Linked DNA regions of Homo sapiens. The protein of the gene in region 2 interacts with the protein of the main gene of each other region in a biochemical or structural test. Each region holds a gene or a part of one and is shown on either strand. Other genes may lie near its edges.

Region 1 (3,812 bases), on a different chromosome or scaffold from region 2:
CGGAAGGCTGTGACTTCAGCTACGTCTCTGAATAGATGGTATGAGGAGACAGAGGCCTGCAATACCACCTCTTCCGGCTGCCTGGCCAGGCCTGCTGGGGCCCCAGGACACTCAGCAATCATCCCTGCACAGGCTGTGCATCAGGGTCTTGGGACACAGCAGCCTGTGGCAGTATGCTCCCACTTAGGGCTTCCCCCAACTAACCCCCTTAAGCTTTGGAGCTGGAGTCAGACCAGAGTTATGTAATTGTGTGTAGCTGTGGCTAAGTTTCTGGCCTTAATTTTCTCAGGGTGGTACTACTGGCTTGTCTCTGAGCCATAATGAAAACCTAATAGTTTTAGCCAGCTAGAATGTATACTGGTGCAGGACCTTCCTATTCACAAAACACTTTCAGGCTCATAAACTCATTTGGTCCCATGAAAGCCACATGAGGGAGGAAATGCTGAACTACTGCTCCATTTTACTGGTAAGAAAGCAGCCATTCAGAGCAATTGTCCCAATGTCACACAGCAATACAGTCAGAATTACACCCTCAGTGAGTCTCTTTTGTTTTGAGACAAGAGTCTGGCTCTGTTGCCCAGACTGAAATGCAGTTGCATTATCTTGACTCAGTGCAACTTCTGCCTTCCAGGCTCAAGCGATCCTGTCACCTCAGCTTCCCGAGTAGCTGGGACTACAGACGCTCACCACCACGCGAGCATAGAGAGGGGATTTCGCCATGTTACCCAAGCTGGTCTCAAACTCCTGGGCTCAAGGGATCCACCTGCCTCGGCCTCCCAAAGTGCTGGGATTACAGGTGTGAGCCACCGCACCTGGCCCTTAGTAAGTCTCTTAATGTCTTGATACGTATCACAATCCCTTCCCAGCCTGAATCTGCCTTTCATGGCCAATGAGCCTTGGGCCACAACCTAGTTCCTTACCATCACAGGCAGAAGGCTTGGCCTGACTGTTGTTCTTAGCATGCTTCTGCCTCCCTTCCTGGCTGGCTGCCTGCTTCCTGTGACCACTTCCCACGGCTGCTCGTGGCTTCCTCATGATGGCCTGAAACAAAAAGACCCAGCCAAAGCAGTCAGTCACAATGAGGCCAAATTTTGAGGCCTTCCAAGGGTGATAGCTATCTCCCTCTCATCCACCATTCACATGGGGTCCAGCTTCTCTCAAGCACTCTCAAGATGCTCACGGGTTTACTCTTGGCTGGCTGCAGCACTGAGATACAACTAGTATAGCTGAGCAAGTGGCCTCAAGGGGGCCGGCGTTACAGCCCTGGAGACATGCAAAGACTGTGAGGCCAGGGCTGGGATGGGTCAAGGATGAAAGCCTCCTGTTTGGGAGCATTTGTGTATCTCTGATGCTTACTGTGACTGTGTGTGTGGATAGGGGTTGTTTAGGTGTGTCTGGGAGAATGGGGGTAGGCGGTTTCTCTGCCTCTTAGAGATGTAGCATGGTTACACTGAAACAGCCTGTAGTAGTCATTAAGTCCAAAACCTTCATTTTATCCTAGAAGAAACCAAGGATCAGAGGGACAAAAGATCTGTCTGAGAACAGATGGCAAATCAGTGGGAGAACAGAGATTAGCTATTTTTATTCCTAATCTAGTAAACCATAGGTGGCTGACCATCAACAATGAGAAAATGTGCCTGGTTGATTTTCACTGCTCCCTAACTGTTATAATGGCCGCCTTTTCTCTAACAGCTAAAATTAGTTGATATTTTGTGAGTGCCTACTCTATGTCAGACCCCATGAAGAGCTTTACCGGATCTCTCAATCTCCTGGTGACTCTATGAGGTATGTACTAGTATCACCTCCACCTTAGTTATAAGGAAATTGAGGTTTATGGAGATTAAGCGACTTGTTCTTTCAAATCCACGACCAGCATTCTTATACTGTGATAAAATGCAGTCCCTGCTAAGCCTCTGTATCAAACTCTCCCCCCAAACCTTTGACTTTACCACCTCATTTTCATCAAAAGAGCTTGCCTCCTCCTTCAGAAAAAAAAAAACCAACTTCAAATCTACCTCCATTTGCACTGTCTTACCCTCCTCCTCTTCAGGGTCCTGCTCCTCCAATCCCGTCTAACTGTTGGAACTCAGAAACTAATACCCCAGGCCAGGCACGGTGGCTCATGCCTGTAATCCCAACACTGCGGGAGGCTAAGGCAGGCAGATCACTTGAGGCCAGGAGTTCGAGACCAGCCTGGCCAACATGGCGAAACCCCATCTCTACTAAAAATCCAAAAAAATTAGCCAGACGTGCTCGCTTGAACCCAGGAGGCAGAGCTTGCAGTGAGCTGAGATCATGCCACTGCACAGCCTGGGCAACAAAGACAGAGCAAGACTCTGTCTCAAAAAAAAAGAAAAGAAAAGAAACCAATACCCCAAAATATGGCCCTCTGACATGCTGAACTCAAGAAGCCGCAAGGTCTCTCTGATCCTTCCACCCCAGACTCTCCCAAAGCCAGGATAAAGTTGTTCTCTGGAACTCTTTATCTGCCTAAAGTCCAAACTCACTAAAAAGAATACTTGTTTTTTCTTCCCCTCCCAATAAGACTAACATGTAACCACACCTGAACAAACCCTTTCACAGGTATTGTGTACCTCAGGATCACTCAAATTCCAAAGAGAACTATTAACAAGTCAACCTCTGTCCCCATTCCATTCTCTCTAGTAATCCTTTATTGCCCTTCAACAGAATCTCCTTCTGGCCAAAGTTCGGTTTATTTAAAAACAAATAGAGCTGGACATGCTGGCTCAGGCCTGTAATCCCAGCACTTTGGGAGGCCAAGGCAGGAGGATTACTTGAGCCCAGGAGTTCGAGATTAGGCTTGCAACATAGCAAGACCCCGTCTCTACAAAAACAGAAAAACAGAATTTCTCTTCTACCCCTTGTCAGGCCTCTGAGCCCAAGCTAAGCCATCATATCCTCAGTAACCTGCACTTATACATCCAGATGGCCTGAAGCAACTGAAGATCTACAAAAGAAGTGAAAATAGCCTTAACTGATCACATTCCACCACTGTGATTTGTTTCTGCCCCACGCTAACTGATCAATGTACTTGGTAATCTCCCCCCCACCCTTAAGAAGGTTCTTTATAATCTCCCCACCCTTGAGAATGTACTTTGTGAGATCCACCCCCTGCCCCCAAAACATTGCTCTTAACTCCAATGCCTATCCCAAAACCTATAAGAACTAATGATAATTCCACCACCCTTTGCTGACTCCTTTTTTTCAGACTCAGCCTGTCTGCACCCAGGTGAAATAAACAGCCTTGTTGCTCAGACAAAGCCTGTTTGGTGGTCTCTTCACATGGACACACGTGAGACACCCCTCCCATAATCTGTTTTGCCAGATGGTATATAAACTCACGAACTCTGTAGGGAGATGGGTAATCACTTTATGGTTCTCCCAATGTGCATGTTAATAAATTTGTATGCCTTTTCTCCAGTTAACCTGCCTTTTGTGAGCTGATTTTTCAGCAGATCTTCAGAGGGCAAAGGGAAAGATTTTCCCCTTGGCTCGTAACACAATCAAATCCCACCCTCCTTCCCTTCATAGCCAAACTTCCTTCACCAAACCTGCTTACTTCCACATTCATTCTACAATCTATTCTCCAAAGAGCAAAGGAATCTTTTCCAGATCACGTCACTTCCTTCCTTATAACCTTCAATGGTTTCCCATTCTTTTTTTTTTTTTTGGGATGGGGTCTCACTCTGTCACCCAGGCTGGAGTGCAGTGGTGTGATCTTGGCTCACTGCAACCTCTGCTTCCTCGGCTCAAGCAATCCTCCCACCCCAATACCCCACCCCAACTCCAAG
Region 2 (3,912 bases):
AATGTGAGTGACACCTGGGCCCTGGGCAGGGCATAGCTGGCCGCCATGCTGAACAATCTGCTTCTCAAAGAGTTCTGCCCGGGCTCGTCCAATGCCAGTGCGCACAACATGGGCCCGAAGGGAGCTCAGCCACTCTGTGGAAGGAACATCCAGATGACTACTGTTGTAACTTTTTAATTTTTATCTGCCACCCCCTGGCCACGACATAACTTCTAACATGATCTGAATGACGTGTTCACAGTCCCCTACCCTGAAAATAAGCATTTCCCTTCCATCCAGACAGCTTTCCTTCTACATATAGCAAATTTTCTCACAGGCCAGCACTTGAATGTAAGGGACAAGGATTTTCATACGTCCTGTTCCTTGGTGCAATCTAGAAGTGTCTGGCACATTGTAAGTAACCTGTAAATATTTGTTTAATGAATGCCTCCTCCCTTCTTACTTTGTTTTTTGTTTGTTTGTTTTGTTTTCTTTTGTTTTGTTTTTGTTTGGAGACAGTCTCACTCTGTCGCCCAGGCTGGAGTACAGTGGCATCGTCTTGGCTCACTGCAACCTCCATCTCCCGAGTTCAAGCGATTCTCATGCCTCAGCCTCCCGAGTAGCTGGGATTACCGGCGTGTGCCACCATGCCTGGCTAATTTTTTGTATTTTTAGTAGAGACAGGGTTTCGCCATGTTGCCCAAGCTGGTCTCGAACTCCTGAGCACAGGTGATCTGCCTGCCTCGGCCTCCCAAAGTGCTGAGATTACAGGCAAGAGCCACCGCGCCCAGCCTCTCTCCATACTTTGAATCCTTTATCATTTATTCTTTCAACAAAGCGCGTTTCTTGCCCTTACAGTCTGACAGACCCGACAACCCTGCCTCCAAAGCCTCTGCCATTTATTTGCCAATTTGGCTGCAAAACAACTAACAACAAGCCTGGGTAATGGAGGGGGGTTTCTGTCCCAGTCCTCAGGGCAAAAATTATACTGGTCATTCCCTGAGGGCCCAGGGAGTCTTTTCTGATGGATAGAGGTCTTCGGGTAGAAAAGAAGGTAACACAGCAAATAGCCTGTCCAAGACCCAGGACCAAGCTTAGCACAAGGTAGATACAAACAGACCTGCAGGCCCTGGACAGGCAGAGTCAGCTCCAATATCTGATTCTGGACATAAACAACGTAGGGCTGAAGCACATGAAGGCTGTGGGTTCAAGCACACGAGGGTTCTGAGACTGGGTCAGCTCACCTTCTGCTTCTTCTCCCTCTTCCCTCCTAGGAATCTTTGCAAGTACTTTTGATGATGCATCAGCATGAATTTTCTGCCGCTTGGGAAATGCCTTCAAGATACCCCTGGGATCCATTGAAGTATGGCTGGATCCCGGCCTATTGGAGCGTTGGTCAGGGCTGCTGCACGTGGAAATCCAGAATTGAGGCCCTCCAACCCCTTTGCCTATGGAGGTAGGGTCTTTCCTGACCAGGCTTTGGGGGTAGCAGCCCAGTTTGGGGAAGCGGGTCGGGGGAGGGGGTCTCTTCAAACCCGGTTAAACTTCAGTGGTTTAGCCTAGCTTCACACTCCCCAGCCTTTCGAAGTTGGAGTATTACGGGAAATGAGGGGAAGGCTGGTGCCATCGGGGGTACTTTTGAGGAGTAGGAAACGACACCATTCCTCAGAGGGGTTGCGCTAAAGATTCAGCACAGCCCTGCTGCGGCCCACTTCGAAGGGCTTTACCAAATGGGATGCTGGGCTAGGAAATGGAGCTTTAGGGGATGGAGCGGAGCCTGGGGAGGACCTGCACATAAACCCCACATACTATTTCTCTACCTCCAACACAGACTCGCAGAGGAAGGAGGAGGACTTTCGGGGGTGAGTGGGAACGCCCTGCACCTGTCCTGGTCTCAGCCTCTCGACATGGGGGTGCTCAGCGCCGCAGCTGCGGGGAGATGGGGCACGGCCGCAGCAGGTGTGGGGAGCCCTCCGGGAATGGAGGAGTCTCGCAGCTGCGGGTGAAGTCCCGGGCAGGTGCGGTGTACTCGCCGTGTACGCAGCTGGCGCAGGCCAGGGAATCCCAGCTCGGGGCTAGAAGAAAGCTGGAGTGCCCGACCCCGGCCCCAAGAGTCTCTCCAACCCCCAGAGTCGGTCCCCGGGTGGGGTCGACTACTGGCCAAGCTAGTCACCCGGGGGTGGGCAGGAATAGACCACTTACCAGCAGAGCCAATGAGAGCGGACGAAGGGGGGAAGGAGGGCAAATGGCCAGAATAGCTTCCGAGTCAGCCGGAAGTGACCCTCTGGAACGGTTGCCATGGCAGCGGCTGGGCGTGCTGCTTAGCAGGGGAAAGATGGCGGTGACGGGCTGGTTGGAGAGTCTGCGGACAGCCCAGAAGACTGCGCTGCTGCAGGACGGTAACTCGAGGGTCCCCACGGGCTCCTTCGTTTTTTTCCCTCAGGGTCCGGCCCTCCGGGAAGGGCCTCAGGGCCTGGGTCGGCAGAGCTGGAAGGGTCTCGGCGGTCAGCCGGGCCAGGTCCTGCATTTGCAGATGAGGAGACTGAGGTTCACAGAGATGACATGACTGGAACACATGTCTCCGGACACCCCTTAGATTCCTCTACACCATCTCGCTCCGCTCTGATTTCTGTTGCTAATATAGTAATTTCTTTTACATTCATTATCTCATTTGCTCCTCACCACTGTCCTGAGAGGCTAATTTTCACCCCGTTTTACAGAAGAGGAAACTGAAATCCAAGAATGTTTTAGACTTTAGAGAGGAGAGAGGCCTGGGCTCTAGTTCCGACTGTGCCATTAATTCACCACGGGCGCTTCAGTCGGCTCCTTTACTTGTTTGGGCCTCACTTTCCTCATCTATAAAATGAAGTGGATGGACTACCATTGTTATCTCTGAGGTCCTTTCCAGCTGTAATATTTTTGTTAAGTGAACTTCTAAATATTTTCTGTGTCTTTAGGGGAGCTAGAGCAAGAACCAAGGGCTGTGCCTGGAAGAAGTGGGCACAGGGGCATGGATACCTAACTTTTCCCCACCCTAGGATTGGCCGATGCCGGCCCCTTTGTGCACTTGGGTCCTTTCTGGACCCACTGGGTAGCCAGGATGAATTGCGTCTGAAGTTCCTGAGGCTTTCAAGATAACAACTGGTGACTCATGTTCACAGGCAGGGGCCAATCAGGGAAGCCTGGAGTTTGTGGAAATTAAAATCATTTACTCGTTCGTGCAACATTTAGGAAGACTTTTACTATGTGCCAAGCTCTAAACTAGAACAGAAAGAAAAAGATATGTTGTCCCAGGACTCAGAGTGGTTGGGAAAAACATGTACTTAAATAATAAGAAGCGTTAAATAGAGGTTGTAGTCTTGTATAAAATGGTAGGAAAGAGTGAAGGTGTAAGTGACATCTCTTTGGAGGAAGACCCAACAGAAGTGATGATGTTTCTGGGTCCTAAAGAATTAATAAGGTCAGGCACAGTGGCTCACGCCCGTAATTCCAGCACTCTGGGAGGCCAAAGTGGGCGGATCATTTGAGCTCAGGAGTTCGAGACCAGCTTGGGCAACATGGCCAAACCTCATCTCTACAAAAAATACGGAAATTATGGCCGGATGTGGTGGTTCACGCCTGTAATCCCAGCATGTTGGGAGGCCGAGTGGGCGGATCCCTTGAGGCCAGGAGTTCGAGACCAGCCTAGCCAACATGATGAAACCACCCCATCGCTACTAAAAATACAAAAAAATTAGCCAGGTGTGGTGGTGCGCACCCGTAATTCCAGCTACTCTGGAGGCTGAGGCAGGAGAATCGCTTGAACCCGGGAGATGGAGGTTGCAGTGAACTGAGATCACACCACTGCATTCCAGCCTGGGTGACAGAGTGAGTGAGACTGTGTCTCAGACAAAAAAATAAATAAGCCGTGCATCATGGCACATGCCTGTAGTC

The links.
Region 1: the proteins of POLL (region 2) and MUTYH form a complex in vitro, tested with the Homo sapiens proteins (one study listed by IntAct).

What each region holds. Positions count from the first base shown.
Region 1 is NC_000001.11:45,333,471-45,337,282, forward strand, and holds part of MUTYH (adenine DNA glycosylase), read right to left. Parts: intron 1,498-3,812; exon of another isoform or gene 1,357-1,497; intron 1,042-1,356; coding exon of another isoform or gene 1,036-1,041; coding exon 921-1,035; intron 164-920; exon of another isoform or gene 134-163; coding exon of another isoform or gene 92-133; coding exon 1-91. UniProt on the Homo sapiens protein: Involved in oxidative DNA damage repair. Initiates repair of A*oxoG to C*G by removing the inappropriately paired adenine base from the DNA backbone. Possesses both adenine and 2-OH-A DNA glycosylase activities.
Region 2 is NC_000010.11:101,586,023-101,589,934, forward strand, and holds the start of POLL (DNA polymerase lambda), read right to left. Parts: upstream 2,236-3,912; 5' UTR 1,800-2,235; exon of another isoform or gene 1,385-1,799; 5' UTR 1,339-1,384; coding exon 1,224-1,338; intron 1,179-1,223; exon of another isoform or gene 1,100-1,178; intron 135-1,099; coding exon 1-134. Other genes in the region: protein DPCD, read left to right, coding at 2,315-2,378.